Homo sapiens: one gene and its partners. The protein of the gene in region 1 binds, or shares a complex with, the protein of each later gene. Each region holds a gene or a part of one and is shown on either strand. Other genes may lie near its edges. The genes, in order: F2, SERPIND1, SERPINC1 and SERPINE2. A codon is read from its position in the direction of its gene.

The links.
Region 2: the proteins of F2 (region 1) and SERPIND1 are in contact, whole or in part, in a crystal structure (PDB 1JMO), measured with the Homo sapiens proteins. Residues at the interface, in NP_000497.1 of Homo sapiens: Lys384 (codon at 6,011), Ser385 (codon at 6,014), Pro386 (codon at 6,017), Gln387 (codon at 6,020), Leu389 (codon at 6,026), Leu390 (codon at 6,029), Cys391 (codon at 6,032), His406 (codon at 6,077), Cys407 (codon at 6,080), Tyr410 (codon at 6,089), Pro412 (codon at 6,095), Trp413 (codon at 6,098), Asp414 (codon at 6,101), Lys415 (codon at 6,104), Leu423 (codon at 6,128), Arg425 (codon at 6,134), Ser430 (codon at 6,149), Thr432 (codon at 6,155), Arg433 (codon at 6,158), Tyr434 (codon at 6,661), Lys440 (codon at 6,679), Ile441 (codon at 6,682), Ser442 (codon at 6,685), Met443 (codon at 6,688), Asn458 (codon at 6,733), Leu459 (codon at 6,736), Lys470 (codon at 6,769), Trp511, Ala513, Asn514; in NP_000176.2 of Homo sapiens: Glu75 (codon at 4,578), Asp76 (codon at 4,575), Asp77 (codon at 4,572), Asp78 (codon at 4,569), Tyr79 (codon at 4,566), Leu80 (codon at 4,563), Leu82 (codon at 4,557), Ile85 (codon at 4,548), Phe86 (codon at 4,545), Asp89 (codon at 4,536), Asp91 (codon at 4,530), Val305 (codon at 118), Glu306 (codon at 115), Met307 (codon at 112), Thr308 (codon at 109), His309 (codon at 106), Gln327 (codon at 52), Asp343 (codon at 4), His361, Lys362, Arg388, Thr457, Val458, Gly459, Phe460, Met461, Pro462, Leu463, Ser464, Thr465.
Region 3: the proteins of F2 (region 1) and SERPINC1 are in contact, whole or in part, in a crystal structure (PDB 1TB6), measured with the Homo sapiens proteins. Residues at the interface, in NP_000497.1 of Homo sapiens: Leu389 (codon at 6,026), Leu390 (codon at 6,029), Cys391 (codon at 6,032), His406 (codon at 6,077), Cys407 (codon at 6,080), Tyr410 (codon at 6,089), Pro412 (codon at 6,095), Trp413 (codon at 6,098), Asp414 (codon at 6,101), Lys415 (codon at 6,104), Trp455 (codon at 6,724), Arg456 (codon at 6,727), Glu457 (codon at 6,730), Asn458 (codon at 6,733), Leu459 (codon at 6,736), Asn506, Thr510, Trp511, Thr512, Ala513, Asn514, Val515, Gln519, Arg541, Ile542, Asp562, Ala563, Cys564, Glu565, Gly566; in NP_000479.1 of Homo sapiens: Lys258 (codon at 2,606), Glu264 (codon at 2,588), Asn265 (codon at 2,585), Arg267 (codon at 2,579), Tyr285 (codon at 2,525), Glu287 (codon at 2,519), Gly288 (codon at 2,516), Lys289 (codon at 2,513), Glu345 (codon at 2,345), Met347 (codon at 2,339), His351 (codon at 2,327), Ala419, Val420, Val421, Ile422, Ala423, Gly424, Arg425, Ser426, Leu427, Asn428, Pro429, Asn430, Arg431, Val432, Lys435.
Region 4: the proteins of F2 (region 1) and SERPINE2 are in contact, whole or in part, in a crystal structure (PDB 4DY7), measured with the Homo sapiens proteins. Residues at the interface, in NP_000497.1 of Homo sapiens: His406 (codon at 6,077), Tyr410 (codon at 6,089), Pro412 (codon at 6,095), Trp413 (codon at 6,098), Trp455 (codon at 6,724), Arg456 (codon at 6,727), Glu457 (codon at 6,730), Asn458 (codon at 6,733), Leu459 (codon at 6,736), Glu509, Thr510, Ile542, Asp562, Ala563, Cys564, Glu565, Trp590, Gly591, Glu592, Gly593, Cys594; in NP_006207.1 of Homo sapiens: Val225, Arg288, Ser355, Ala356, Thr358, Thr359, Ala360, Leu362, Ile363, Ala364, Arg365, Ser366, Ser367.

The regions. Positions count from the first base shown.
Region 1 is NC_000011.10:46,722,005-46,729,307, forward strand, and holds part of F2 (prothrombin preproprotein), read left to right. Parts: intron 1-1,175; coding exon 1,176-1,281; intron 1,282-1,377; coding exon 1,378-1,514; intron 1,515-3,854; coding exon 3,855-4,169; intron 4,170-4,493; coding exon 4,494-4,622; intron 4,623-4,706; coding exon 4,707-4,833; intron 4,834-5,991; coding exon 5,992-6,159; intron 6,160-6,659; coding exon 6,660-6,833; intron 6,834-7,303. UniProt on the Homo sapiens protein: Thrombin, which cleaves bonds after Arg and Lys, converts fibrinogen to fibrin and activates factors V, VII, VIII, XIII, and, in complex with thrombomodulin, protein C. Functions in blood homeostasis, inflammation and wound healing.
Region 2 is NC_000022.11:20,777,113-20,784,112, reverse strand, and holds part of SERPIND1 (heparin cofactor 2 precursor), read right to left. Parts: intron 4,817-7,000; 5' UTR 4,801-4,816; coding exon 3,912-4,800; intron 142-3,911; coding exon 1-141. UniProt on the Homo sapiens protein: Thrombin inhibitor activated by the glycosaminoglycans, heparin or dermatan sulfate. In the presence of the latter, HC-II becomes the predominant thrombin inhibitor in place of antithrombin III (AT-III).
Region 3 is NC_000001.11:173,907,328-173,914,342, forward strand, and holds part of SERPINC1 (antithrombin-III isoform 1 precursor), read right to left. Parts: intron 4,688-7,015; coding exon 4,472-4,687; intron 3,565-4,471; coding exon 3,427-3,564; coding exon of another isoform or gene 3,304-3,426; intron 2,616-3,303; coding exon 2,225-2,615; intron 188-2,224; coding exon 123-187; intron 1-122. UniProt on the Homo sapiens protein: Most important serine protease inhibitor in plasma that regulates the blood coagulation cascade. AT-III inhibits thrombin, matriptase-3/TMPRSS7, as well as factors IXa, Xa and XIa. Its inhibitory activity is greatly enhanced in the presence of heparin.
Region 4 is NC_000002.12:223,974,444-223,980,488, forward strand, and holds the end of SERPINE2 (glia-derived nexin isoform b precursor), read right to left. Parts: intron 5,958-6,045; coding exon of another isoform or gene 5,955-5,957; coding exon 5,868-5,954; intron 3,185-5,867; coding exon 3,101-3,184; intron 1,462-3,100; coding exon 1,424-1,461; 3' UTR 602-1,423; downstream 1-601. UniProt on the Homo sapiens protein: Serine protease inhibitor with activity toward thrombin, trypsin, and urokinase. Promotes neurite extension by inhibiting thrombin. Binds heparin.

The DNA of each region.
Region 1 (7,303 bases):
GCTAATTTTTTGTATTTTTTAGTAGAGACGGGGTTTCACCATGTTGGCCAGGCTGGTCACAAACTCCTGACCTCAGGTGATCCACCAGCCTCAGCCTCCCAGAGTGCTGGGATTACAGGTGTAATCCACTGCGCCCAGCCTCATTTGTTAAATTACGTACTCAACAGACATTTTACAAAGTTCCTGCTACGTGCCAGGCACTATATCAGGTGCTGGGGATTTTAAGAGAATCAAATACAGTCTCTGCCTTCAAGGAATTCAAAATCTCAAAAGAGAACAAAAATACAAAATATTAAAATGATTGCGGCCGGGTGTGGTGGCTCAAGCCTGTAATCCTAGCACTTTGGGAGCTGAGGTGGGCGCCCAGGCCAGGGGTTTGAGACCATCCTGGCCAACATAGTGAAACCCCCAACCTCTACTAAAAATACAAAAATTAGCTGGGGTGTGGTGGCACGCGCCTGTAATCCTAGCTACTAGGGAGGCTGATGGGGGAGAATTTCTTGAATCTGGGAGGCAGAGGTTGCAGTGAGCTGAGATCATGCCACTGCACTTCAGTCTCGGCAACAGAACAAGACTCATCTCAAAATACATAAATAAAAATAAATAATTCAATAAAGTGATTGCAAGAAAAGTTCTGTTCAAGGCACCAAGAGACCACAGGAAAATGAGTGTCTGGTTTGCCAGAAAAATGAGAGATGGCTTCCCAGGAGAGGCAGAGTTCTGCCTGGCCTGGTGGGATGCATGGATGAACAAACAAGTGGGCATTCCAGTCAGAAGAAACAATCCGTGGAAAGACCCAGAGGCATGAGAAGCTGAGCTAGCAGGGACAGGTAGACCAGGGCCAGTTGAAAAGGACCTTCATCACTTTTTCATCCTGCTGGCCAAGAGAAGCCACAGAATGGAAGCTCCATGAGGGCAGGGCTGTGACTGTCCTATTGGTTGATGTGTACTGAGCACCCGACAGTGCCTGTCATATGGTAGGCACTTAGCGAATATTTGGAGGCCACTGTTGAGTGAATGGGAGAACTGCTGGTTGCAGAGGAAGAGGGGCTGGGTGAATGCAGGTTCAGGATTGTGGACCTGCATGAGCTGGGAGGTGGGGGATAGACAACTTTGCAGGGAGAGAGGAAATAAGTCCCCAGGCTCCAAGGCTGACCGGGGTGGGGTCTCCGCAGGTAACTGTGCTGAGGGTCTGGGTACGAACTACCGAGGGCATGTGAACATCACCCGGTCAGGCATTGAGTGCCAGCTATGGAGGAGTCGCTACCCACATAAGCCTGAGTGAGTGAGGGGCCGGCCTTCCCACCATGGGCTGAGAACAGGGAGCAAGCGTACCTCAAGCCCAACAGCCTCCTGTTGGGCAATTTCCTGTTCCAGAATCAACTCCACTACCCATCCTGGGGCCGACCTACAGGAGAATTTCTGCCGCAACCCCGACAGCAGCACCACGGGACCCTGGTGCTACACTACAGACCCCACCGTGAGGAGGCAGGAATGCAGCATCCCTGTCTGTGGTAAGCTGGGGGCAGTGGGGCGGCCCATGGCCAAGGCCCGGGGGCTTCATGGGGCCTGGCAGCCTGGGATGGGAACCAAGAATACTGGCTACCCAGGCACAGTGGCTCATGCCCGTAATCCCAGCACTTTGGGAGGCTGAGGCAGGCAGATCACCTGAGGTCAGGGGTTTGAGACCAGCTGGGCCAACATGGCAAAACCCCGTCTCTACTAAAAATACAAAAATTGCCAGGCGTGGTGGTGGGCGCCTGTAATCCCAACTACTCTGGAGGCTGAGGCACGAGAATCGCTTGAACCCGGGAGGCGGAGTTTGCAGTGAGCTGAGATCCTGCCACTGTACTTCAGCCTGGGCGACAAGAGCAAAACTCTGTCTCAAAGAAAAAAAAAAGATGCTGGCCACCTTCAGAGCTGGCGTCAGTCATTCAGATCATATCTGTGCCTATTGCTCAGTAAAGTCAGGGAATCAGGGGATCTGAGTGGGGGGATCTGCCAGCCTCCTCCTCCCCCTCCCCACTCTTGACTTCCTTATGGTCCAGGCTGTGGCTCATTCCAAACATGCCTCCTTTCTGATCAAGGCACTCCTCCCTCCGGGAAGCCCTCCCTAGCCATTTCAGTCCACACACCCTGTTCTGAGTATCACAGAGCAAGCCTTGTGCAGTTTGGCCCTGCGGGATTCTGTCATTATTATTTCCTTGGTGTGTTAAGTAGCTATAGCCACCCCTTCCCTGAGGCAGACCACAATAAGCATTTCTTTTTCCCATGAGGGTTGGCAGGTGTGGCTGCACTCGCTAATGCGTCTGTAGGGTCAACTGACGGAGGTTGGCCCTGGCTGGGTGGCTCTGATTCAAATAATGGGTCCAGCTGAGTCTGGCTCCTCGTTGAGGGTTGGGCCTAGATCTGCTCCACGTGCGTTCATGCTGGGGCTGAGGCTGAAAGAAGGTACCTGGGAAAACTCTTCTTATGCTGATGACAGACACAGAAAACAATGAACAGAAAAGCGTCTTCTGTCCTGAAGGCCTGGCTCAGAACAGGCACAGTCAGCCCTGCCCACGTTCCATTGGCCAGAGCAAGTATATGTTCAAGGCCAGGGTCAAGAGGTAAACTACACCTCAGCCTGTAAAATCACAGAGCAAGGGATGTGGATGCAGGCAGGGGTAAAGAATTTGTGCCGATTACCAGTCCACAAACATGGGTTAGTGTTTGTTCTCTAGGCATCCCTGTCGGGCCCATTGCTCATTCCTGGGGTTGGTCTTTTTTTTTTTTCTTTCTAAGATGGAGTCTCACTCCCTTGCCCAGGCTGTTGGAGTGCAGTGGCCCTATCTCAGCTCACTGCAACCTCCGCCTCCTGGGTTCAAGCGATTCCCCTGCTTCAGCCTCCTGAGTAGCTAGGATTACAGGCGTGTGCCACCACTCCTGGCTAATTTTTTTTTATGTTAGTAGAGACGGGGTTTCACCATGTTGGCCAGGCTGATCTCAAACTCCTGACCTTGTGATCCTCCCGCCTCGGCCTCCCAAACTGCTGAGATTACAGGGGTGAGGCACTGCGCCCGGCCTTTTTTTTTTTTTTTTTTGAGATGGAGTCTCACTCTGTCACCCAGGCTGGAGTGCAGTGGCATAATCTTGGCTCACTGCAACCTCCACCTCCTGGGTTCAGGCGATTCTCTGCCTCAGCCTCTCATATAGCTGGGATTACAGGCACACGCCACCACGCCTGGCTAATTTTTGTATTTTTAGTAGAGACGGGGTTTCTTCATGTTGGCCTGGCTGATCTTGAACTCCTGACCTCCGGTGATCTGCCCAGCTCGGCCTCCCAAAGTTCTGGGATTACAGGTGTAAGCCACTGCGCCTGGCCCCTGGAATTGGTCTTATAGCAAGTTTATCCCAACAAAAACAGCTACTATTTACTCCCCAACCCCCATACACACGCACACACATTGATGATAAATAAGTTGCAGGCTTGCAGAAATTGACCCATCCAGGTGAACAGCCTAGTGATCCCAGCAAGCGTCCTGCTGTGCAGCTATAAAAACATGACTCCTCCAGCAGCTCCAGGCAGCCACTACCAGTTAATTACAGATGGCCTAGGAGGCCAAACCTGGTTACTATCTCTGGTTTATTATGTGCCAGACACTTATGCTGTATATTTTGTTTAATCCTCTCAACAAACCTGCAAAAGTGGCATTAGTAACCCCTTTAAAGGCAAACGGTCAGAAGCCCAGAGAGGTTAAGTAACCTGAGGTCACACAGGCAGAAAGCAGCAAGACCGGGGTTCACACCCCTGTCTGTTCCGGTCCATGTGTGGTCTCACTCACTCTGCTGCCTCCTTGCCCCTCACCCACCAGGCCAGGATCAAGTCACTGTAGCGATGACTCCACGCTCCGAAGGCTCCAGTGTGAATCTGTCACCTCCATTGGAGCAGTGTGTCCCTGATCGGGGGCAGCAGTACCAGGGGCGCCTGGCGGTGACCACACATGGGCTCCCCTGCCTGGCCTGGGCCAGCGCACAGGCCAAGGCCCTGAGCAAGCACCAGGACTTCAACTCAGCTGTGCAGCTGGTGGAGAACTTCTGCCGCAACCCAGACGGGGATGAGGAGGGCGTGTGGTGCTATGTGGCCGGGAAGCCTGGCGACTTTGGGTACTGCGACCTCAACTATTGTGGTGAGCTGCCTGGGTAGGGGGCCTGAGTTGCAGGGACAAATCCTGGTGGGAATAACAACAGCCGCTTCTGCTTATCGAACGCTTACCTCATTGAGTGCGCTCATTACAGCCTTACAGTAACCAGGTGGGGGGTAAGGTCCTGTGCCCATTTCACAGATAAGTACACTGAGGCCCCAGGAGGTTATTGCCTAGTAGCCCAACTGTGCATGCACGCTTAACCTCTGCACCAAATGGCCTCCAAGGCCCGTAGGGGAATTGGGGGGATCTAGGGGATGGGTGAGGAATGGCCCAGCCCAGTCCCAGCCGGTGCCTGGGTCCCAACAGAGGAGGCCGTGGAGGAGGAGACAGGAGATGGGCTGGATGAGGACTCAGACAGGGCCATCGAAGGGCGTACCGCCACCAGTGAGTACCAGACTTTCTTCAATCCGAGGACCTTTGGCTCGGGAGAGGCAGGTGAGGTAGTGGGCATCCGAGGGGATGCGGGGCTGCGGGGCTGGTGGCCAGGACTTGCCCCTCACTGCTTGGCTTGCTCTGCAGACTGTGGGCTGCGACCTCTGTTCGAGAAGAAGTCGCTGGAGGACAAAACCGAAAGAGAGCTCCTGGAATCCTACATCGACGGGCGCATTGTGGAGGGCTCGGATGCAGAGATCGGCATGTCACCTTGGTGTGTCCTGGAGCCCTGCGCTACCATTCACTCCTGGGGGCAGGTGTGCTGCTGGACCCCCACCCTCAGGCCCTGCCTGCAGGCCTGGGCTTTACAGATGACAACAGCTGAGCATCCAGGATCCCACCAACTCCACACAGCAGCCACATGAGATGGGTTGTTTACTTCTTTTTTTTTGTTTCTTAGATGGAGTCTTGCTCTGTCACCTAGGCTGGAGTGCAGTGCTGCAATCTCGGCTCACTACCTCGATCTCAGCTCACTGCAACTTCTGCCTTCCGGGTTCAAACGATTCTCTTGCCTCAGCCTCCTGAGTAGCTGAATTTACAGACATGCGCCACCACACCCGGCTAATTTTTGTATTTTAAGTAGAGACAGGGTTTCACCATGTTGGCCAGGCTGGTCTTGAACTCCTGACCTCAAGTGATCCACCTGCCTCAGCCTCCCAAAGTGCCGGGATTACAGGCATGAGCCACCACACCCGGCCCATGGGTCCTTTACTTCTAAGCAGATGGTAAAGCTGAGACTGACGGAGCTGGTGGCTCACCTCCGCGCACAGCTAATGGGTTTGAATCCAGTTCTTCTGATTCCAGAGCTGTGCTACGCTATGTGAACTCTGGACTGGAAGGACCTAGTTAGGGGGTGCAAAAAGCAGGAGGCAGGTCAGGTGCAGTGGCTCACCCCTGTAATCCCAGCACTTTGGGAGGCCAAGACAGGAAGATCACTTGAGGGCAGGAGTTCGAGGCCAGCCTGGGCAAAATGGTAAAACCCCGTCTCTACTAAAAATGCAAAAATTAGCCAGGTGTAGCAGCATGTCCCTGTAGTCCCAGCTACTAAGGAGGCTGAGGCGGGAGGATCGCCTGAGCCCAGGAGGCTGAGGCTTCAGTAAGCTGTGACTGTACCATTGCACTCCAGCCTGGGTGACAAGAGTGAGACCCTGTCTCAAAAATAAATAAATAAATAAATAAAAAAGTGTGAGGCAGCCCCTCAGCATCACACGGAGGCTCCAGGCCCCAAAGGCGGCCAGCCCAAGCTTGGATCTGGGCCCCGGAGGCAGCTCTGCCCAGCTGGGTTCTTAGACCTGGGATTGTTACTTCTAGGGCTGGTGTAGAGGCAGCCCCCTCATCCTCAGCTCCTAATGCTTCCTGCTGCCCCTCCCAGGCAGGTGATGCTTTTCCGGAAGAGTCCCCAGGAGCTGCTGTGTGGGGCCAGCCTCATCAGTGACCGCTGGGTCCTCACCGCCGCCCACTGCCTCCTGTACCCGCCCTGGGACAAGAACTTCACCGAGAATGACCTTCTGGTGCGCATTGGCAAGCACTCCCGCACCAGGTACAGAACTGGTGGCCCGTGGGTGTCTGGCAGGGGTCTGAGTCCTCCAAAGCGATCATGAGGGGCCCTGGTGGCTCCGGGACACATAGGATGTTCTGTATACCCCCCAGAATATAACATCCCAGCAGTCTCTGCTGGAAAGCCCATTTGGTCACGTCCTGACTGAGGCTTGGAGCTGCGGGGAGAAATCCGTCTGTCTCCTGGTCCCTCCAACACTAGGATATAGCCCATGTGGGAGTCTCTGAAAATAGAGTCTGTCTGGACTAGGGCGTGCAGCCTGTGCCCCTGTCCCCGTCCTCCAGGCTGTCTGACTCCAAAGCCCTGCACGGCTTTAGGCCCAGGAAGAAACACCCAGGGGGCTGCCATGGCAGGAACCAGCCCTATCCCCTCCCTGGTGGCCTGCAGGACACACTGTCTCCCAGACCCCAAGGGCAGGCAGTTTCCTGCTCCTTGCTGGGTGAACCTGCAGCTTCTCCATTTCTTTCTTGGGGTCTCTGCAGGTACGAGCGAAACATTGAAAAGATATCCATGTTGGAAAAGATCTACATCCACCCCAGGTACAACTGGCGGGAGAACCTGGACCGGGACATTGCCCTGATGAAGCTGAAGAAGCCTGTTGCCTTCAGTGACTACATTCACCCTGTGTGTCTGCCCGACAGGGAGACGGCAGCCAGGTGGGCCACCAGATGCTTGTTAGCTGAGGGGCAGAAGCCAAGTTCTGGGCCTGGCTCTGATACCAAGTAGCCTTGCAAGAGCCCCTTTCCCTTTTCCAGGCCTCGGTTTCTTGGAGTGAACCCAAAAGTTCTTTTCAGTACTGGCGTTTTATTTTTTATTTATATTTATTTATTTACTGACGGAGTTCCACTCTTGTCTCCCAGGCTGGAGTGTAGTTGTGCGATCTTGGCTCACTGCAACCCCACCTCCTGGGTTCAAGCGACTCTCCTGCCTCAGTCTCCTGAGTAGCTGGGATTACAGGCTAATTTTTGTATTTTTAGTAGAGACTGGTGGGTTTCACCGTGTCGGCCAGGTTGGTCTCGAACCCCTGACCTCAAGTGATTCACCCGCCTCGGCCTCCCAAAGTGCCGAGACCACAGGCGTGAACGTCTGTGCCCAGCCAGCTCTGGCGTTTTAGATTCTGGTCTCT
Region 2 (7,000 bases), on another chromosome or scaffold:
TGTCGCAGTCCAGCTCCTGGTCATTTGCTGCGAGGAAGTTCCCCTTGGTCTGCATCATGGAAACCTTAACTACCTCTCTCTCATTCAGCCGGAAGTTGTGGTTGTGTGTCATTTCCACTGGGAATTTATTCACCCAGGATCCTGTAAAGGCCACAGGAAGAGGCTGTTATGAGAAGGTTCCTTTAGGGAAATCGTCTCACCCTTGAGAGTGAATCTGATTTCCCTGGAGGCCTCATTCAGATAGCCTGCAGAGCCGACCCCACAGTCTCTTGATTCCTGAGGCCTGATTTGGGCAGAAATTTGCATTTCTAACAAGAGAGGTTAACGAGAGGTTACCCGGACTGGAATAGTTTCTGGAGTAGGGTCTGATACGAACTAGTTGTTTGACCATGGTAAGGCACCTAACTCGCTTCTATTTCTTCATCTGTCACATCTGTCAAATGAGTAACTTTGAGCTCTTTCCAGCTTTTATTACTGTTATTATTATTTGGTTTTTGAGACCAGGTCTCACTGTGTCATGCAGGCTGGAGTGCGGCGATGCCATCATAGCTCACTGCAGCCTCACACTCCCAGGCTCAAGGAATCCTCCTGCCTCAGCCTCCCTCCCCAGTAGCTTGGACTACAAGCACATGCCACGCCTGGCTATTTTTTCTTTCTGTCTTTTTTTTTTTTTTTTTAATTGTAGATGGGGTCTTGCTATGTTACCTAGGCTGGTCTCAAACCCTTGGCCTCAAGCAATCCTCCTGCCTCAGCCTTCCAAAGCACTGGGATTATAGGCATGAGCCACCCTGCCAGCCTCAGCTCTGTCTTGATGGCCTTCATCCCTCACACTGTGATTCTGTAGTGACTAACAAGACATTTGGGTGATGCCATGTTGCCCTTAGGATCACCACTGTAGATATGGGGACAGTGCTGTGTATCCAGGAATAAGCCCATGTCTATGTTAGCTCTAAGATGTGAGTAACTAATAGTAATGGGTGACTAGTAGTTGAGAACTGGCCATGTGCCGGGCATTCTTCTCAGCACCTTTCCTGTATTATCTCATTTCTGCTCCTAGCAACATGCAAGTTGTGTGCGTTTTGTTATCCCTCTTTTACATATGAGGAAACAGAGGCACAAAGAAGTGAAGTAACTTGTTCAAGGTTTCTAGCTGGTGGGTAGAGCAGCCAGGATGAGATGAGCAGGAGGTGTCTTGGAGGTTGAAGTACCAGACAGCTCCTGCCTGCCTGTGAGTGAAGCTCGATTCCCTTCTCCCTGAGTCTGCCTCACCCAGGGTTTCTCAACCTCAGCATTTTTGACATTTGGGCCACATAATAGTTTGTGGCAATGTGGGCTGCCCTGTGCATGGTAGGGTGTTTAGCAACATCCCCAGCCTCCCCCTTCTAGATACCAGTAATGCTTACTCCAACCCCCCAGGTTGTGACAACCAAAAGTGTCTTCAGACCTTGGGGACAAAATTGCTCTTTTGGGAATCACGGCCCTTTCAGTTTGGATGGAGCTGTCCCATGTCTCTTGGGATTCTTTCCTTCTGACTTCCTCATGAGAGCCTGCCTCTGTTTATTGTGCTTTACAAAGTGATTATCACATTAAAATTAGAACAAAATTAGTAATGGAGATGATTCCATATGAAATTAAGTGAAATTAAAATTACACTTCTAGACACTCGTCCCCTTTGAGAAGCATCCATGAATGATTGGGTACTCCTAGCATTTGATCCCTTGTGATGCCCGGCATTGAGTGACTATTCTCATGATGGGGAAAGGAAGCAGAAGCATTTGCACGTGTGTTTACACTGTGGTATGACACGGGTTACTGTGTTTAGGAGATTGTCAACTGACCATGCCTGATCATTTCTCCACCTCCATGCAGGCAGGGATGGCTCACTGCTGTACTTCTCTGCCTGTCCCTGAACCCTCAGCCAGGGCTAATGCAGAGGCTCTTTGGTGTACTTGGGGGGCTCCAACAGACCAGTAGGTTGGAGGACTTTGATGCTGCCAAAAATGCTTCTGCCAGCCTGTTCTAAAGTCAGTCCTAAACATAGGTTATTTGCTAGTAGAAGTAAAATAAATGTCACTAACAATATCATATGTTTATCATATTGTACTAGTATTGTAATCTACAGTTTCATTCCCTCAAATTCGCTGAGCTCTTGTCATGTGCCACTCTGTTGCATTGCCATCGCTTATGGTTCTTCCCTCGGCCCTGTCAGAGTGGGTGTCATCTCTGTGATAAAGATAAGGAAACTGAGTCATAGAGATGTTGAATGACTTGTCTGAGGTCACACAAACGAGAAGTGGTGAAACCAGCGCTTAGACTCTTGTTTGCTCAATTCCAAAACTTGTACTAATAACCTGTAATGAAAAGGATATGTGTGTTCATCATGTACATGTGGTCTCTGTGTGTGTGTCTGCCGCAAGCCTGTTAGAACTCAGCCTTTGATTCCACCCACAGGAGGCCAGCATTGTGCCATGCCTTGGGGTGGAAACCTGGGTGTCAGAGTGACCCTGCTTGGCCTATCCAGCAGAATGCCTGCCTTGTAGAGCTGCAGGGGCCTCAGCCAAGGCACAGAGCAGGTGTGTGGACAGATCAGGAGGGGCTCTGGCCCCCTTTCCCTGAACAGAAGCCAGGAGCTGGGGGGGGTCTCCTTCCTTCGCCTGGGCTGCTATAAAACCACGGGAGCTAACTAGCAGAAAGCACTGGCCTCCAAGTACTGCCCTTTGCAGGTACCTGGTAGTCCTTGGTGGCAAAGAGAAGTGGTTGTGTGTCACCGCAATTAGTCCTGAAGCCGAACCATTCCTCGTGTTTCCCCTTCCACACTCTCAGCTTAGAGAGTAAAGTAGAGGTTTCTTCTGGTCTGGTCCAGGTGAGGATATTTGAAAAGAGAGGTTTGGATTTTACAAATCCATGCTTATTTATTCCTAGGATTCCAGGGGTCCTATGTGTGTGTGATGGGTGTGGGGTGACCTCCTTAAAAAGTGCCCTTGTGCTCAGCCCAGAACAGTTGCTGGGGAAATAGTAATTTATTTCTCCATCCCACCTGCCCAGTAGTTCAAAAGTATCCTGAAAAGCACTTGTAGGTGTCAATGTCAGCTGCTCAAGCTGAATAGTTCACAGGTGCATTTCTTTAGCCTTTTGTCTATATTCCTGCTTATTGATAATTGGGAAAGGAAAAGAGAAAACTCAAATCCAGGCTGGCCAAATGCTAAAACAGTTTTTGTATTATTTCTTCCAATTTAACAGATTGCTAGGGTTGGCCTCCCTGGGTTCAGCTTTGGCTCTGCCCCTTAATAACTGGGTGCCCTTGGAGCATCGTTTTACTTCTTTTTTTTTTTTTTTTGAGATGGAGTCTCACTCTGTCGTCCAGGCTAGAGTGCAGTGGCACAGTCTCGGCTCACTGCAATCTCTGCCTTCCAGGTTCAAGTGATTCTCCTGCCTCAGCCTCCCAAGTAGCTGGGAGTACAGGCACCCACCGCCAGGCCCAGCTAATTTTTGTATTTTTAGTAGAGCCAGGTTTTCACCATGTTGGTCTGTTGGTCAGGCTGATCTCGAACTCCTGACCTCAAGTGATCTGCCTGCCTCGGCCTCCCAAAGTGCTGGGATTACAGGCGTGAGCCACCGCGCCCAGCCCATCCTTTTACTTCATGTGTTGGTGGCTTCCTCTGTAAAATGGGGATGCTAATAACAGTGATGACCTCACAAGGCTGTGTTAAAGCACAGAGTTAGGGCTCAGTAAGTGTCAGATGCTACTGTCACTTCAGCTTGGCCTTCCCTGTCCCCGTTCCAGAGTCAATCTTGTGTCTAGTTTTCCTGGATAAATTATAGCTACAGTACAGTTCTTGGCATTCAATCTACCCACATACAAAAATAGTATGTTGTGGGTTTGCTGTGAGAACTGTAAAGGTGCCTCTTACCTTTGAAGTAGATGCAGTTGAGAATCATCATCTGGGTAGCAGGGTCTATATTCTCCAGAGCATCTTTTATGAGGCCCTTGGTGAGCTTCATGATGTGGTTGTTGGTTTTTGATATGAAGGCAGGGTCTGAGAAGTCAGCTATCTGGGCCTCAGCAAAGTAATACTCTCTTACTTTAGTTTTGAAGTCAAGCAGGATTGGAAACTGCTTCTGGATATAAAGGTCATTGACTGACCGCAGTGTGTACCCAAAATTCCTCCTGAAGAGGCGATGAGTCAGCTTACGGAAGAGATTATGAATGGTCGTGATTTCATACTTGCTGCTGGCATTAACAAAGTCTTTAAAATGCAAAATCGAGTGCACTTGTTCATGGGTCTCTCCCTTCAGACCTAAGGAAATCATACCCATCGCAGTAGAAATGCCAACGGGTGCTATGAAGATGTTATCGAAAGTGTTGACCTGGTCTTTCAGCACTCGGTAGAGGTTGAAAGCGAACTTGGCGTTGAGGATGTTAAGACGCTGGATCCGGCTCTTGCCATGAAAAAGCTGGAGGATGTTCCCAGCACTCACATCAGAGTCTGTCGGGGAAACTGACAGACTGTCGACGATGTCGATGTAGTCGTCGTCTTCACTGAATATCTTCTCCAGGTCCAGATAGTCGTCGTCCTCCTCCCCCTCTGGAATCCAGTCGTTGGTGACGGTGTTTTCCTTGTGGAAGTCGGCAGGGAGAAGAGGCATGCTCAGGTTTTTGTTATTTAACTGCTCCCACTGGGGATCTGCAGACTGAGCAGTTTCCCCTCCTTTCTCTAGCTGATCCAGCGGGCCTTTGCTCCCACCCCACGCAGATGTTATGATGAGGAAAATGAGAAGTGCGTTTAATGAGTGTTTCATTTTGGCGGAGCTAAAGCTGGGAGGGAAAACAGAACACAGTGAAAGGCGGCCTGGCTGATCCACACCCCGCTGCAGCATCCACATGGCAGGTTCCCTGTGGCTTTGACCCAGGAAGAGGCCCTCACAGCATTAGTTCTTAACTGTTTTAGGATCATGGACTTTAAGAGAATCTGATGTAGATAGACACCCAACCTTTGATGTGGGACTCATAAACCTCAATGAAGGATCTGTGGGCCCCTTGATGAAAATCCCTTCTTTAAAGGTTTGCAAAACTAACCTTCTAGAATCCTGGGAGCTCAGGCATCCCAGGGAGGAGTTTGTTTTTCTCCAGACACCTTGTCCACCACCTCCAGACAGTGTTTAGTTACCAGAGACAAAGTTCCCACCAGGGGCTCATGGACCAGTCAGGGGACAGATGGGACAGACGTGCAGTAAAGCGAAGGCTCTCAAAATAATGCTGCCAGAGCACATGGGGGTACGGAAAGGGGTGTGGCTCTACCCTGTGTGGTAGGAGTGGAAGTGCCCAGAGAGTCAGGGAAACCTCACTAAGAGCTGGGCTTGAGTGGGCACCTGGGGCTGGTGATTGGAGAGTACCTAGAAGGGATGTGCATTAGTGGGACTCAGCCATGCCTGTGTGACTCACACCATTCCACCTTTGCAATGGAGATGCTGTTGAAAAATGTCCATGGGCCAGGCTTTCTGAAAACATATTCTAAAGATACTTGAAATTTGTGCAATCTTTGGGGTTGTTTAATTCGTTGTTTTTTTGTTGTTGTTGTTGTAATTGGCTTTTGTTGTTTTTATTTTTTGAAATGGAGTCTCACTCTGTCACCCAGGCTGGAGTGCAGTGGCGCGATCTCGGCTTACTGCAACTTCGGCCTCCTGGACTCAAGCAATTCTCTTGCCTCAGCCTCCCAAGTAGCTGGGACTACAGGTGCACACCACTACGCCTGGTTAATTTTTGTATTTTGTTTAGTAGAGATGGGGTTTTGCTCTGTTGGCCAGGCTGGTCTCAAACTCCTGACCTCAGGTGATCCACCCACCTCAGCCCCCCAAAGTGCTGGGATTACAGGCATAAGCCACCACGCCTGACCTGGGGTTGTTTAATTTGCAAAAGATTTGGAACTTGTCTAGTGCTGAGACCCCCTCAGGGCGTAGTGAGGTGATGTGGTGGCAGCCCCAGAGGTGATATCACTTGCTGCAGGTATACTTTTTTCTCCTTTGTATCTCTTAGACAATAGCTCCCACTGCTGTCAGGAGCAACTAAATCTTCTGTGTTACTGCTTCTAACACAGGGTTAGAAACAAGAGATAAAGTCTGTGTGAGGGTGATGTCAGCAAGCTCTTACTCAAGACCTGAGGGGCACTCCCTTTATTTAAGTAAACAAGATAAGCTTTTAGCACAGAGGCATTATGGCAATCCTGTCTTTATTTGTTCCTCTGACTCGTTCAGAGGAGGATCTGACTTGGCCTGTCAAATCTGTTTTGACTGCCAAATCCTTTGTCTTTCTCTTGCTTACTTCCTGGTTATTAACTGCACTCTGGTTAGATGAGCTTTGATGATTCCATGTTTTGCCAGGACAGTGACCATAGGTGTTTATAATGCTGACTCAGACAGGTAATACATGGTCCCAACTTCTAATCACCCCAGAAAGAACTGCCGGCCAGGCGCTGTGGCTTACGCCTATAATCCCAACACTGGGAGACCAAGGCAGGAAGATCACTTGAGCCCAGGAGCTCAAGACCAGTGTGGGCAACATAGCAAGACCTCATCTCTGTGAAAAATTAAATAAATAGGCTGGGTGCGGTGGCTCAGGTCAGTAATCCCAGCACTTTGGGAGGCCGAGGTGGGCGGATCATCTGAGGTCGGGAGTTCGAGACCAGCCTGGCCAACATGGAGAAACCCTGTCTCTACAAAAAATACAAAAAAATTAGCCGGCGTGGTGGCGCATGCCTGTAATCCCAGATACTTAGGAGGCTGAGGCAGGAGATTCGTTTGAATTCAGGAGGCAGAGGTTGTGGTGAGCCAAGATCGCACCATTGCACTCCAGCCTGGGCAAAAAGAGCGAAACTCCGTCTCAAAAAAAAAAAAAAGAAAAGAAAAATAATTAGCCTGGTGTGATGGCACACGCCTGTGGTCCCATCTACTTGAGAGGCTGAAGTAGGAGGATCACTTGAGTCTGCAGTGAGCCGTGATCACG
Region 3 (7,015 bases), on another chromosome or scaffold:
TTATAGCAGGCCTGTGGAGGCCTTTTGCATGCCTTAACACTGGAAACAGGCCTTTTCCACGTGTTCCTGCTGTTCATGCATCTCCTTTCTGTACCCTAAGAGAGTGGGGAAGGTGTACTCACCTCAAGAAATGCCTTATGGAATGCATCTGAGACATAGAGGTCATCTCGGCCTTCTGCAACAATACCTGGAAGGAAGACCGGAGAAGTCTTTGTGAGATGGGAGAAAGTTGGCTTCAACCCACAGATGGGAATTCAGTTTGGATTAAGAGATCCTTTGGGGCTTTTTGAAACATAAGAAGAAATCCTAAATCTTCACCTAATCATACTCTCACAATGAATATGTGTTAAAAATAATAAAGTACTTTGGGGGCTGGGTGCAGTGGCTCACACCTGTAATCCCAGCACTTCGGGAGGCCAAGGTGTACAGATCACCTGAGGTCAGGAGTTGGAGACACTCTAACTAATATGGTGAAACCTTGTCTCTATCGTGAAAATACAAAAATTAGCCAGGTGTGGTGGCGCATGCCTGTAATCCCAGCTACTTGGAAGACTGAGGCAGGAGAATCGCTTGAACTCGGGAGGTGGAGGTTGCAGTGAGCCAAGATCACGCCACTGCACTCCAGCCTGGGCAACAAGAGCAAAACTGCATCTCAAAAATAATAATAATAATAATAATAATAATAATAATAATAATAATAAAAGTACTTTGGGCTTGTTCAGCATGGCTCCTGATAATTCATTCTCAGGCTTCAGCTTTTTGTGGGAGAGAGAAACGGCAAGACTCTGTTCTTACAGAAAAAACTCACTCCATCCAGAAGGAACATCTTTCTTTCCAGTCTGGCAACATTTTTAGTTTTCAAAACTAGCTTAAAGACAGCCCAATAGCACAGTGGCTCACGCCTGTAATCCCAGCACTTTGGGAGGCCAAGGCAGGTAGATCGCCTGAGGTCAGGAGTTCAAGACCAGCCTGGCCAACATAGTGAAACCCCGTTTCTACTAAAAATGCAAAAATTAGCCGGGCGTGGTGGCAGGCGCCTGTAATCCTAGCTCCTTGGGAGGCTGAGGCAGGAGAATCACTTGAATCTGGGGGGTGGAGGTTGCAGTGAGCCAAGATTGCACCACTGCACTCCAGCCTGGGGGACAAGAGCAAGACTTCGTCTCAAAAAAAAAAAAAAAAAAAAAAGGTCAATAAAGATAAATCTAATTACTTAACATCGTAAACTTATTTTATTATTTATTTATTTATTTAGTGATAGGACCTCACTCTGTTGCTCAGGCTGGAGTGCAGTGGTGTGATCACAGTACACCACAGCGTTGACCTCCCGGACTCAGGCAATCCTCCCAGCTCTGCCTCCCAAGAAGCTAGGACTACAGGTGTGCGTCACCATGCCTGGCTAATTTTTTTTATTTTTTGTAGAGACCATCTCACTATGTTGTCCAGGCTGGTCTCGAACTCATGGGCTTAGACGATCCTCCCACCTCAGCCTCCCAAAGTGCTGGTATTACAGGCGTGAGCCACCCTGGCCAGCCAACTTCTTTAAAAGATATTTTAATGTGCCAGGTGCGGTGGCTGACGCCTGTAATCCCAGCACTTTGGGAAGCCAAGGCAGGCGGATCACAAGGTCAAGAGTTCAAGACCATCCTGGCCAACATGGTGAAACCCATCTCTACTAAGAATACAGAAATTACCAGGTATGGTGACGTGTGCCTGTAATCCCAGCTACTCAGGAGGCTGAGGCATGAGAATCGCTTGAACCCGGGAGGCAGAGGTTGCAGTGAGCCGAGATCGCACCGCTGCACTCCAGCCTGGGCAACAGAGTAAGACTCTGTCTCAAGTAATAATAATAATAATAATAAATGTCAGTGAGGCCTGTGTAATGGGAACCACATTTCCCCAGCTCTTAATATCTGTCTCTTTGCTCTGAATTCCAATGCCCTTTCAAATTCCTCTCCACCTGGTCCCATCTCCTCTACCTGATACAGACTCACAGGGCACCAGTGCTAGCTGGGCCCATGGAGATCCAAGAACAAACTTCCCTTTTACAGAAGAGGAAACTGAGGTCTCAAAAGGAAAAGAGATTTCCACAAATTAGCAGTAGAAACTAGGATCAGTATCCAGGAGTCCTGACTTGTTGCTCCTTTCTATTCTTTCTCCAACTCTTCCACTTTTGGTCAGACTACCTTGCGGGTGGAGAAGGGAGGAAACTCCTTCCTAGACAAACCTGGGAGTTTGGACTTTTCAGGGCTGAACAGATCGACAAGGCCCATGTCTTGCAGCTGCTCCTTCAAACTGAAGCCGTCCTCAATGCGGAAGCGGGGCATGTGGACCACCAGCATCATCTCCTCCAATTCATCCAGCCACTCTTGCAGCACCTCTGGGGTGAGTTCCTTCTCTACCTTGGCCAGGCTCTTCTCAGGCTTGGGCAAGATGAGGACCATGGTGATGTCATCACCTTTGAAGGGCAACTCAAGCACCTGGGTGCCTTCAGCCACGCGCCGATAACGGAACTTGCCTTCCTGGTACATCATAGATGCTGAACACGACTCTCCATCAGCCTTGTAGAACAGTTCCTTCCTTGTGTTCTCAGGGCTGAACTTTGACTTCCACAGGCCCTGGAAGAGAATCACAAAGTAAGAACACAAACATTCATAGGAGGATAGTTATTGACACAAGACATATCCATATTATAGTGTTACATTAATATATAATTATTCGGAAAAAAGACTGGCGGGATATGCACAAAAAGGTTAACAATGGCTGTGTCAGAATGATGGAATTATGAGTAGGTTTATTCATAACTGTCAAACCTTGGAAGCAGCCAAAATGTCCTTCAGTAGATGAATAGACAGACTGTGGTACATCCAGACCAAATGTAATGCTATTCCATGCTAAGAAGAAATGAGTGACAAAGCCACGAAAACACAAAGGAACAGTAAATGCATTTTACTAGGTGAAAGAAGCCAATCTGCCGGGCGCGGTGGCTCATGCCTGTAATCCCAGCACTTTGGGAGGCCGAGGTGGGCAGATCACGAGGTCAGGAGATCAAGACTATCCTGGCTAACACGGTGAAACCCCGTCTTTACTAAAAAAAAACCAAAAAATTAGCCAGGCATGGTGGTGGGTGCCTGTATTCCCAGCTACTTGGGAGGCTGAGGCAGGAGAATGCCGTGAACCCAGGAGGCGAAGCTTGCAGTGAGCCGAGATCACGCCACTGCACTCCAGCCTGGGCGACAGAGCGAGACTCTGTCAAAAATAAATAAATAAATAAATAATAGATTGACCTGCCCTGCTGACCTGTACCTGTGTAGCTTTCGGCAGTCCATTTGCCCTCTCAGGGCTTCGGTCTCGCCATTTAAAAAAAAAGGGGGTAAGCTGAAGAGCAAGAGGAAGTCCCTGGGGTCTCTCCAGGGCCATTCTGAGTACCTTGAAGTAAATGGTGTTAACCAGCACCAGAACAGTGAGCTCATTGATGGCTTCCGAGGGAATGACATCGGTGATTCGGCCTTCGGTCTTATTGGACACCCATTTGTTGATGGCCGCTCTGGATTGCTCTGCATTTTCCTGAGGAGAACAGAAAATAAACCTACTCACCTGTGCTATTCAATTGGCTTCTCCATTTTCCCAGGCAGCATTTTATTTTTCTCACCATCCCTCTGTCCTTTCCCACCATTTGATTAAGAAGCCATTGCTCTAACCCAAATTGGGGAAGCCTCACATATCTAATATAGTTCCATGAATCTTTCCTGTAGTTAATAAATATTATCAGAAGAAAAAGAACAAAAAGAAATAGGAAGAAATAAATGAAAAGAAGGAAGGCGAAAATAGTCTGGGAAAAAGAAGATAAAATATTATTTTCTCTGACTTTGGAAAACCTTAACTCACAAAAGTAGAATTTCCAAGGCATGTGCCAGGGGAAGCAATGAATGATTGCAGGTTATATGGGGTTGGCAGGTTATATGGGGTTGGCAGGTTATATGGAGGAGAGAAATGCCCATGCAGTCAAATACATTTGAGGAATGCCGATTGAATAAAGCCAACAGATTTCTTTGTTGCAGAGTTTCTCAGAACCTTCATAGGCCCATGTGCTTCATGAATCTCCAAGAGGAGAATGTAACATGCATCATGTACCAACTTTATTTGACCATGATAACAGTTCAAATTAAGTAAGATATCTTGTAGAACTGGCATCTTCAAAACACCCTTTGGTATATATTTGAAGTTGGTGGATGGAATGAAGAATTGATTATTAATTCATGTTTTCTGGGCAGTCACTACAATCCAAGCATGGATACCTTTGATTTCTCAGGTTTCAAGTAAGAATAACTATTGCAGGGGTTCTAACTTTTAGTCAGCCCTCCAGCAGTCTTCAGCAGCAAAGCAGTGTGAATTTGGATGCTGTTTCTCCACCTCCTCAATCTCTGAGTGGAGAGGAAGAACTCGGAGGTCAGGGGTAACATCTGCAACTCACCTTGAAGTCCAGGGGCTGGAGCTTGGCTCCATATACCAACTCACTGATGTCCTGGTAGGTCTCATTGAAGGTAAGGGATTTGTCTCCAAAAAGGCGATTGGCTGATACTAACTTGGAGGATTTGTTGGCTTTTCGATAGAGTCGGCAGTTCAGTTTGGCAAAGAAGAAGTGGATCTGATCAGATGTTTTCTCAGATATGGTGTCAAACTTAAATACCTATAGAAGTCAAAAAAAAATGGTGGTGGGTTTGGTGGGCTGCCTAGTTAACATGGGTGGTGAGCACATGCTGGTCAGTCTCTGACTAATAGCCACCTCAGTTGTTAACTCCTTCAAGCACAGTACCTGGGACAGCATAAATGCTCAACTCTTGTGTTCTGATGAATAAAAGGATAAAAGAAGAATGAAGGGTAGGAAGGATAAAGGGAAAAAGAGAGACTAGGTTGCCACCTAAAGTCTCTAAACGCCTCTAGATCAACACACAGACGTTTTCTTGCTGGAATGGGAAAAGTCCTCTTGGTGATTCTGGACAGAGAAGAGAATCAGGACGGTGTCCTTCTCGTAACAAACACTTTTGTGGCATCTACTGGGGCCAGCTGCTCATGGAGGCTCTGGGATACTGGTGGTAGGGGTGAAAAAGGAAGAGTGAATCTATCAGCAAGGGATTAAACAGGCTCAGAATCTAAGAGCTCAGGGCTGAAAAGGACTTAGAAGTCATCCATGCTTTGAAGTTGGAATCCCCCAATGCCCACCTTCACCATCCCCAAGGCAAAATGGGTGAGGCTGTTCCCCTCCTGCCCTTTCCATGCTCTCTCCTCAGGCTACAAAAGGCCTTTTGGTTTTATCTGTTCTCTGCCTTTGGTTTTCCTGATTTTGCTCCAATAGGCACTTTTTTTAGGGGGGGATTATGCTTTTGATCAAAAGCTTGGTGCTGAATCTCTCTTTTCTCCAGAGAGATTCAGTCTCACCCTGCTTTCCCAACACATGGCGTTTGTGTAGAGGGGAGGACCAAAGGAACATGTGTGGTTTGGAAGCAGTGTTCTGTTCTGTTCTTCTTGTAGGAAGGGTTACATTTAAGATCTTACCTGGGGACAGAGACATGAGTGATATGGAAGTACTTTGAGACCAGTACCAATGTATACAAAAATGACTGAAGGGCCCAGAGAAGGCAGTATTATGTGTCTTCAGAGTTTTTAAATCTACAATTTCTTTCAAAGAGTGAAGACTTGGGTTAACTCACCCCAGAGCCCTGAGCAAAGGTGATGAAGTTCCATGGAAATTGACCACTAGAATAGAAGGAACCCTCCTAAGACCCACAGACTTTAGTGTCCAAGTTTCAAATAAGCACCGTATACCATCTTGAAGGGACTCATGCCTCCCTATTGATGAACTCTGCTTCCAAAGTGTGATCCAACTTGAAGAAAGACTGTCATGCAGCCAAGCCAAGGACAGATTAAAGATCTAGTGTTTCCATCCATGACTTGTCATAGCCCCAGAGGCCAACAGTGATCAATCAATCTATGACATTTCATCTTATCATGCCCTACTTCCCTCCCACAAAAGGCAGTGGGGGGAAGGGGGTGGGAACTAAGTCACTGAGCTGAAATGATCCATACTTCCCAGAGCCAGAAAACACTCTCACGTCCTTGAGGCTTCTCTTGGCTTTCCTGGGCCCCTGGTCTCAATATACCATCCTAGGCCCCGTGCAGTGGCTCATGCTTGTAATCCCAGCACTTTGGGAAGCCAAGTCAGGCCGATCCCTTGAAGTCAAGAGTTTGAGGCCAGGCGCGGTGGCTTACGCCTGTAATCACAGCACTTTGGGAGGCCAAGGCAGGTGGATCACGAGGTCAGGAGTTCAAGACTAGCCTGGCCAACATGGTGAAACCCCATCTCTACTAAGAAGAAAAAAAATTAGCCAGGCATGGTGCCGGGGGCCTGTAATCCCAGCTACTCGGGAGGCTGAGGCTGAGAATTGCTTGAACCCGGGAGGTAGAGGTTGCAGTGAGCTGAGATCGTGCCACTGCGCTCCAGCCTGGATGACAGAGCGAGACTCCGTCTCAAAAAAAAAAAAAAAAAAGTTTGAGACCAGTCTGGCCACGTGGTGAAACCCCATCTCTACTAAAAATATAGAAATTAGCTGGGCGTGATGGCGTGTGCCTGTAATCCCATCTACTCAGGAGGCTGAGGTGGGAGAATTGCTTGAACCTGGGAGGCAGAGTTTGGAGTGAGCCGAGACTGCACCACTGCACTCCAGCCTGGGCAATAGAGCGAGATTCCATCTCAAAAAAAAAAAAATACTATCCTAGAATTTTTTTCCACGAGAGCCTATATGCCTGATGTCACCATATGGTAAAGCTACTCTTCTTCCACCAGAGGAGGGACTGGCACTACACATTGCCTGGCACAGAGGAAGTGCTGAATGAATAAATAAATAAATGATCAAATTAATGAGTAAACATATAGATGAAAGAATTACTGAAAAGAAGTTGAGAGAAGATACAAGCCTTCCCCCATTTTAAGGTGCTCAAAAGAGGAAACCAGGATTTA
Region 4 (6,045 bases), on another chromosome or scaffold:
CTTAAATTCTGATTTAGCTTAGACTGCATAAATCTTTAAGAAATTAGTTTTTTAAAAAGCAGGCAAATGGTAAAATCAGAATTATGATATTTGTAAGCTGAATGCCAGTGGCTCATGCCTGTAATCCCAGCACTTTGTGGGGCTGAGGCAGGTGGATCACTTGAGGTCAGGAGTTCAAGACTAGCCTAGGCAAGATGGCGAGGCATGTCTCTGTAAAAAGAAAAAGGAAAAAAAGAATTATGATGTTTGAGTTCAACTTGGAAAGTTACCTTGAAAAAAACAAAAAAAAAACAAAAAACAAACAAAAAAACCCTGTCATTTCAAAAACACTCCTGCCTATCATCACCAAAAACGAAACAGTTCCTGTTCCCCCAGGAGTTCCAAAATACATGGTACCCAGCAACTTCATTCGGCACTTGCTACAAAATCCGTTTCTTTGCTGAGAATTCTTAGCCATTGCTGGAGTGAATGTAGCTAAGAGTAGAACTAGGATTACTGTAATAGTTACTCTGTTGAAGTGATCTAGAAAATGAGATGTGTTGAAGCGGGGAAGTGTTTGATTGTCAGGTCTAGAGGAAAAGAATAGGAAAAGTCTCCGAGCTTTGAATTTCCTGATGTTTACATAGTACAAAGGTTTATTAGAAGAGGCTGACGAATGTCTAAAAGGCTCAGTTTCTTCTATTGTATTTTCAAATAGCAGAGAAATAGCTTTATTTTTACTACTCATAACAGTTTATTTTTACTTTGTACAAAATACAAAAATGCAAATCCAAGGAGTACAGACCAGTAGTGACAGGCACACTGCACAACAGCAACCTTGTCTAGCAAGACAGGAGTTTTTTAAATTTTATTTTAGTGAATACATGCATTATATAAAACAACAACAACAACAACAACAAAAACACAAAGAGGCTAGAGATTTCACCGTTTCTACCACCAAAATAACGCTTGCTATCAAGACTTTGGAGGGGGATGGGGGAAAAGAATTTAAAAGGCAAATAATTTTTTTTTCATAAAAAGTAAAAGCTACCATAAAACATTTTTTTTTCTGTCACACTGATTAAATTTCTTCTGAAAAGCCGCACATATAGACAAAACAAAACAAAAATTCCTGAACTGGACAAACAGCAAATACTCAACAGGGTTGTTAACCTAGGTAACAGTTCAGTAGTTTAAAGAATCTTTTAGACATCTGGAAGCCTTTCTATTCATTCCTCAGTACAGTGTTCCAGCCATCCTGCTTGTTTTTTCCCTCCAATACCTCCCAGAACAGAAACACTTGCATCGAGTCTGTTCCTAAGAACTAGTTTTGAAAAAGAAGCGATGTACAAAAATATTTAACAGAACTATGAAAGATGCAGGAAAGGAGTCTTTCTTCGTAGCAAAGTAGTCGTTGCTTTGCATGGTTTCTTTTGTATACTCTTCAGGGTTTGTTTATCTGCCCCATGAATAACACAGCACCTACAGAATTAAAAGAAAACAATGCATGACTCTGTAAATTAATAATCCTTAAAATAAGATGGAAGGTATTCTATTTAAGGGAAGGGAAACAATCATGTTTGACCTCTTGCTCAGTAGTGTCCAGTATAACTTTCTGCAGTGGTAGAGATGGTCTATATCTTTGTTGTCTAGCATGGTAGCCACTAGTCACATGTGGCCAGAGAGTGCTTAAAATGTGGCTAGTGTGACTTAGAAGTTGAATTTTAATTTTATTTTTTATTTCTTGAGACAGAGTCTTGCACTGTCACCCAGGCTGGAGTACAATGGCGCCATCTCGGCTCACTGCAATTTCCGCCTCCTGGGTTCAAGCAATTCTCCTGCCTCAGCCTCCCAAGTAGCTGGGATTACAGGCACCCACCACCACTGCCAGCCAATTTTTTGTATTTCTAACAGAGATGGGGTTTTGCCATGTTGGCCAGGCTGGTCTCGAACTCCTGACCTCAGGTGATCCACCCGCCTTGGCCTCCCAAAGTGCTGGGATTACAGGCATAAGCCACCGCACCCAACCAGAAATTGAATTTTTAAAGTTAATGTTAAATAGCCACATGTGGCCAGAAGCTCCTCATTGGCTGGCTCAGTTCTGGGGCATGCCAATTAGAACATCACAGATGCAATGAGATAAGAGAATAAGGAACTATCTCATATTACTGATTAAATAAAATAGTAAAAGCTAAAATATATTAGTGCCTACTCTTGTACCAACAAGAAGCCAACCTCTCTACAAAGATGAACTTATACTTCATAATTGTAATAAGCAGTCAGCACTACTGTTGTCCTCATTTTAAAGATGAGGCTTAAGGCCAGAGCCAAGTTTGAACCATGACTCACAGAGCAAAAATCTACTGTATTAACAATTCCCAAGGTATAACAATAGAGTGGGCTTACAAAGTGGTATGGTTTGGCTCTGTGTCTCCACTCAAATCTTGCCTCGAATTGTTAATAATCCCCATATATCAAGGGCAGGACCAGGTGGAGAAAACTGAATCATAGGAGCAGTTTCCCCCATACTGTTCTTGTGATAGTGAGTGAGTTCTCATGAGATCTGATGGTTTTATAAGGGGTTTCCCACTTCACTCGGCTCTCATTCTCTCCCCTGCTGCCCTGTGAAGTGATGCCTTCCACCGTAATTGTGAGGTTCCTGAGGCTTCCCTAGCCATGTGAAACTGTGAGTCAATTAAACCTCTTTTTCCTTGTAAATTACCCACTCTAGGGTATTTCTTCATAGCAGGGTGAGAACAGACTAATACACAAAAGTTGAAGTTATATAGCTTCTAGCAAAATTGAACCACCACATTTATATAAATATGGAAAAGTCAATAGATGTCAAAAGTGTTCCAAAGGGATGCTGAGCCTCTCTGTTAAAAACAACAATCCGCAAAACCTAAAATCCTGTCAGTGTGTAAAAGATTCCATCACATCTGTAAACACAGCCTTTATTTTCCTATCTCTTTAACATGGGTGGTTATATTATTCAAAGTGTCTGCAACTATTGACATTAGGGAAATGGACTATGGGCACCACTGTTGGATATAATGAAGAGTGCAATATACCTTTTGAAATTCTAACAGAGAGGGCATGATGGAAGAGGAGAGTCACTTACCTGTAGGATTATGTCGGATGAAAAACAGAAAAGGTCTGTCTACTATAAACCAGGGAGGCGATGATCTTGCAATGAGAATTGCAGCTACGGGAAGAAAAGGAAAATGTGTTGTGCACATTACATGAGACCATGTAAGCATAAGGCCAGCAAGTTAGCTAGCTTCATGGACCCTCAGAGGCTGGTGTCTGAAGACACACTTCATGCTTGTTCCATAGGCTGGCCATGTTACAACAGGCTCAATGGTCACCATTTACTAAGCCTACCTTGGGCCAGGCCCTTTACATTACTCTCTCATGTCTTCTACACAAGCACCATCTCTGATAAACATACTTACTCCTCATAGAGTTTTGATGAGAATTAAATGACATAATTAAATGACATAAGATATATTATAGCTCTTAGAACAGTGTTTGCCACTAAACACATCTAATGCATATTTATTGTTATTAGCTATTTTTTATTCACACCATCTGCTTTGCTGATAAAGCCCCCAGTCCTTTTTTTTGGGGATGGAGTCTCACTCTGTCACCCAGGCTGGAGTGCAGTGGCGCGATCTTGGCTCACTGCAACCTTTGCCTCCCGGGTTCAAGCGATTCTCCTGCCTCAGCCTCCTGAGTAGCTGGGATTACAGGCATGCACCACCACGCCTGGCTAATTTTTGTATTTTTAGAGACAGGGTTTCACTATGTTGGTCACGCTGGTTTTGAACTCCTGACCTCAAGTGATCCACCTGCCTCAGCCTCCCAAAGTGCGGGCATTACAGGCATGAGCCACCGCGCCCGACCCCTGGTCCTGTTTAGCTTCTCTAAATCTTTTCTGTATATAAAGGCCCAGTCCAATTCTTAGCTTTTGTGTCTGTGCCTTCTCCTTTGGCACATTATTTAGGTTTCCTCTGCACTGGAATGTAGACCACTCATCCGGGACCTACTACCTTATACTGCTGTTCCACTCACCAGGTGTAGGCATCTGACTTGGAAAGCAAACTTCTTTAGCCTCATGGGTCTTGGCCATTCCTCGTCTGCCAGGCTTGTTTCCATTTAATAAGCCTGAACCAGGGCCTCACGGGAGGGTAGGTGTGTGGCATTACTACCACATGCCTGTTGCAATAGCTCAGTCCTCTTGCTCAAACCCCATGAAGTATTGAACACTTGGGCTTGATGTTATAAAGGAAACAGCTGCAGTTATGCTGGGGCAAGCCCTTTTACCCAGGGTTATTAAAAACAAATATTAAATAGCAGGTGTTATGGACTGAAATGTGTCTCCCCCCAAATTCATATGCTGAAGCCCCAAACCCCTAACGTAACTGTATTTGGAGATAATGCCTTTGAGGAGGTAATGAAGGTTAAGTAGGGTTCTATTCTAATAGGACCGTTGCCCTTATTTGAAGTGGGAGAGACACCAGGGATGTGTCACATGGAGAAAAGACCATGTGAGGACACAGGGAGGGGGCGACCTCCGGAGATCCAGAGATCTCAGGAGAAACAAACCTGCCAACACCAACACCTTGATCTTGAACTCGCAGCCTCCAGAAGTGTGAGTTCTGTTGTTTAAACCACTCAGTCAACGGTATTTTGTCATGGCAGCCCAGGCGGACTAAGACAGGAGGACCTGGGCGGTTACATGGGGCCCTGCACTGGGTTTAATACTCTGCTGTTGCTATCTTGAAATTCTTATACATTTTGAACAAGGGGCTCCATATTTTCATTTGGCACAGGACCCCACAAACTATGTAGCTGGTCCTGATAGTTACACTCAGCAAAACTGGTCAATAACTTTTAGATGTTACTTAAAATTACCTAGAAAAGACAAAAAGCATCTTAAAATTTCCAACCCTCTTATTTCAGGGTCTTTGTTTTAAATGCTTCTTTAAAGGAATTTTTAAAACGTTTATTCGAGAAAGGCAATAACACATCTATTGTGAGTATAACTGGTATGTTTCAATGACCAGAGATATTTGACCCAGCTGCAAGTGTAGCTAAGATTTTCACTTTATGGGCTCACAGAGTTGGCCAAATCTATTCATCTATTTTCCTACGGATAATGAGGGGTGAAAAAACTGACTTACGATTGTTCTGTTTTCTCCTTCATTATGTAAACCACTGAGGAGGAAGCAGATGTGGATGTTCTAATTATCAAGGAAGGCTGTACAGCAATCCTGCCGCAATTCAACAGATGCTGGCGAATTCTTCGGTTTATCCTGGATAGACCTGATTGCCTATTTTCCTTTAAGTACTTGTTGTTTATTTTATGTTCAAATCTGAAGATTGGTCTTTTTTGCCAGTAAGAAGCCAGAACATGTTTTATCCTCCTGAGAGCAGGGGTCAGCAAACTATTTTCCTCAAGGCAAGTCTACCAGGACAAATCCTGTTTTTATAAATAAAGTTTTATTGGAACACAGCCACATCTGTTTACTTGTATTGTTGATTGCTGTTTTCATGCTACAGTGAAAGAGCTAAGAAGCTGTAATGGAGATGGTATGACACACAAATCTGAAATACATACTACCTGGCTCTTTATAGAAGTTTGCTGACTCCTGTCCTAGAGGAATTTCTCTCACTGAAATGCTTTTCTTTAATGAAACAGATTCTGAGCTTTGTGGTTACAGGTCTTCAGTCTGTCTGTACTCACTGCTGTCTCCTGAGGGTTAACCCACACACACTGCCTGGCTGGAAAGAGGGTGCATTACATATTTGCTCAACCAATGAGTATACAGGAATGTGTTTGCTCCCCTGCTAGAGGAAGCCCTGCCACGTGACCCAGTGCTTACTTGTTGCTGCTGAAGCTTTGGTTCCATCTTCACTGACTTCAATTTTTGCTTTTTGCAAGATATGAGAAACATGGAGGTTTTCTGACCCTGCTTCCAGAAAATAAAACAGTATCAGCATTTGTTTGATAGGCAGGCCATTGGTTGGTTGGGGAAGTAACCTCAAAGCTCAAAGCCATGG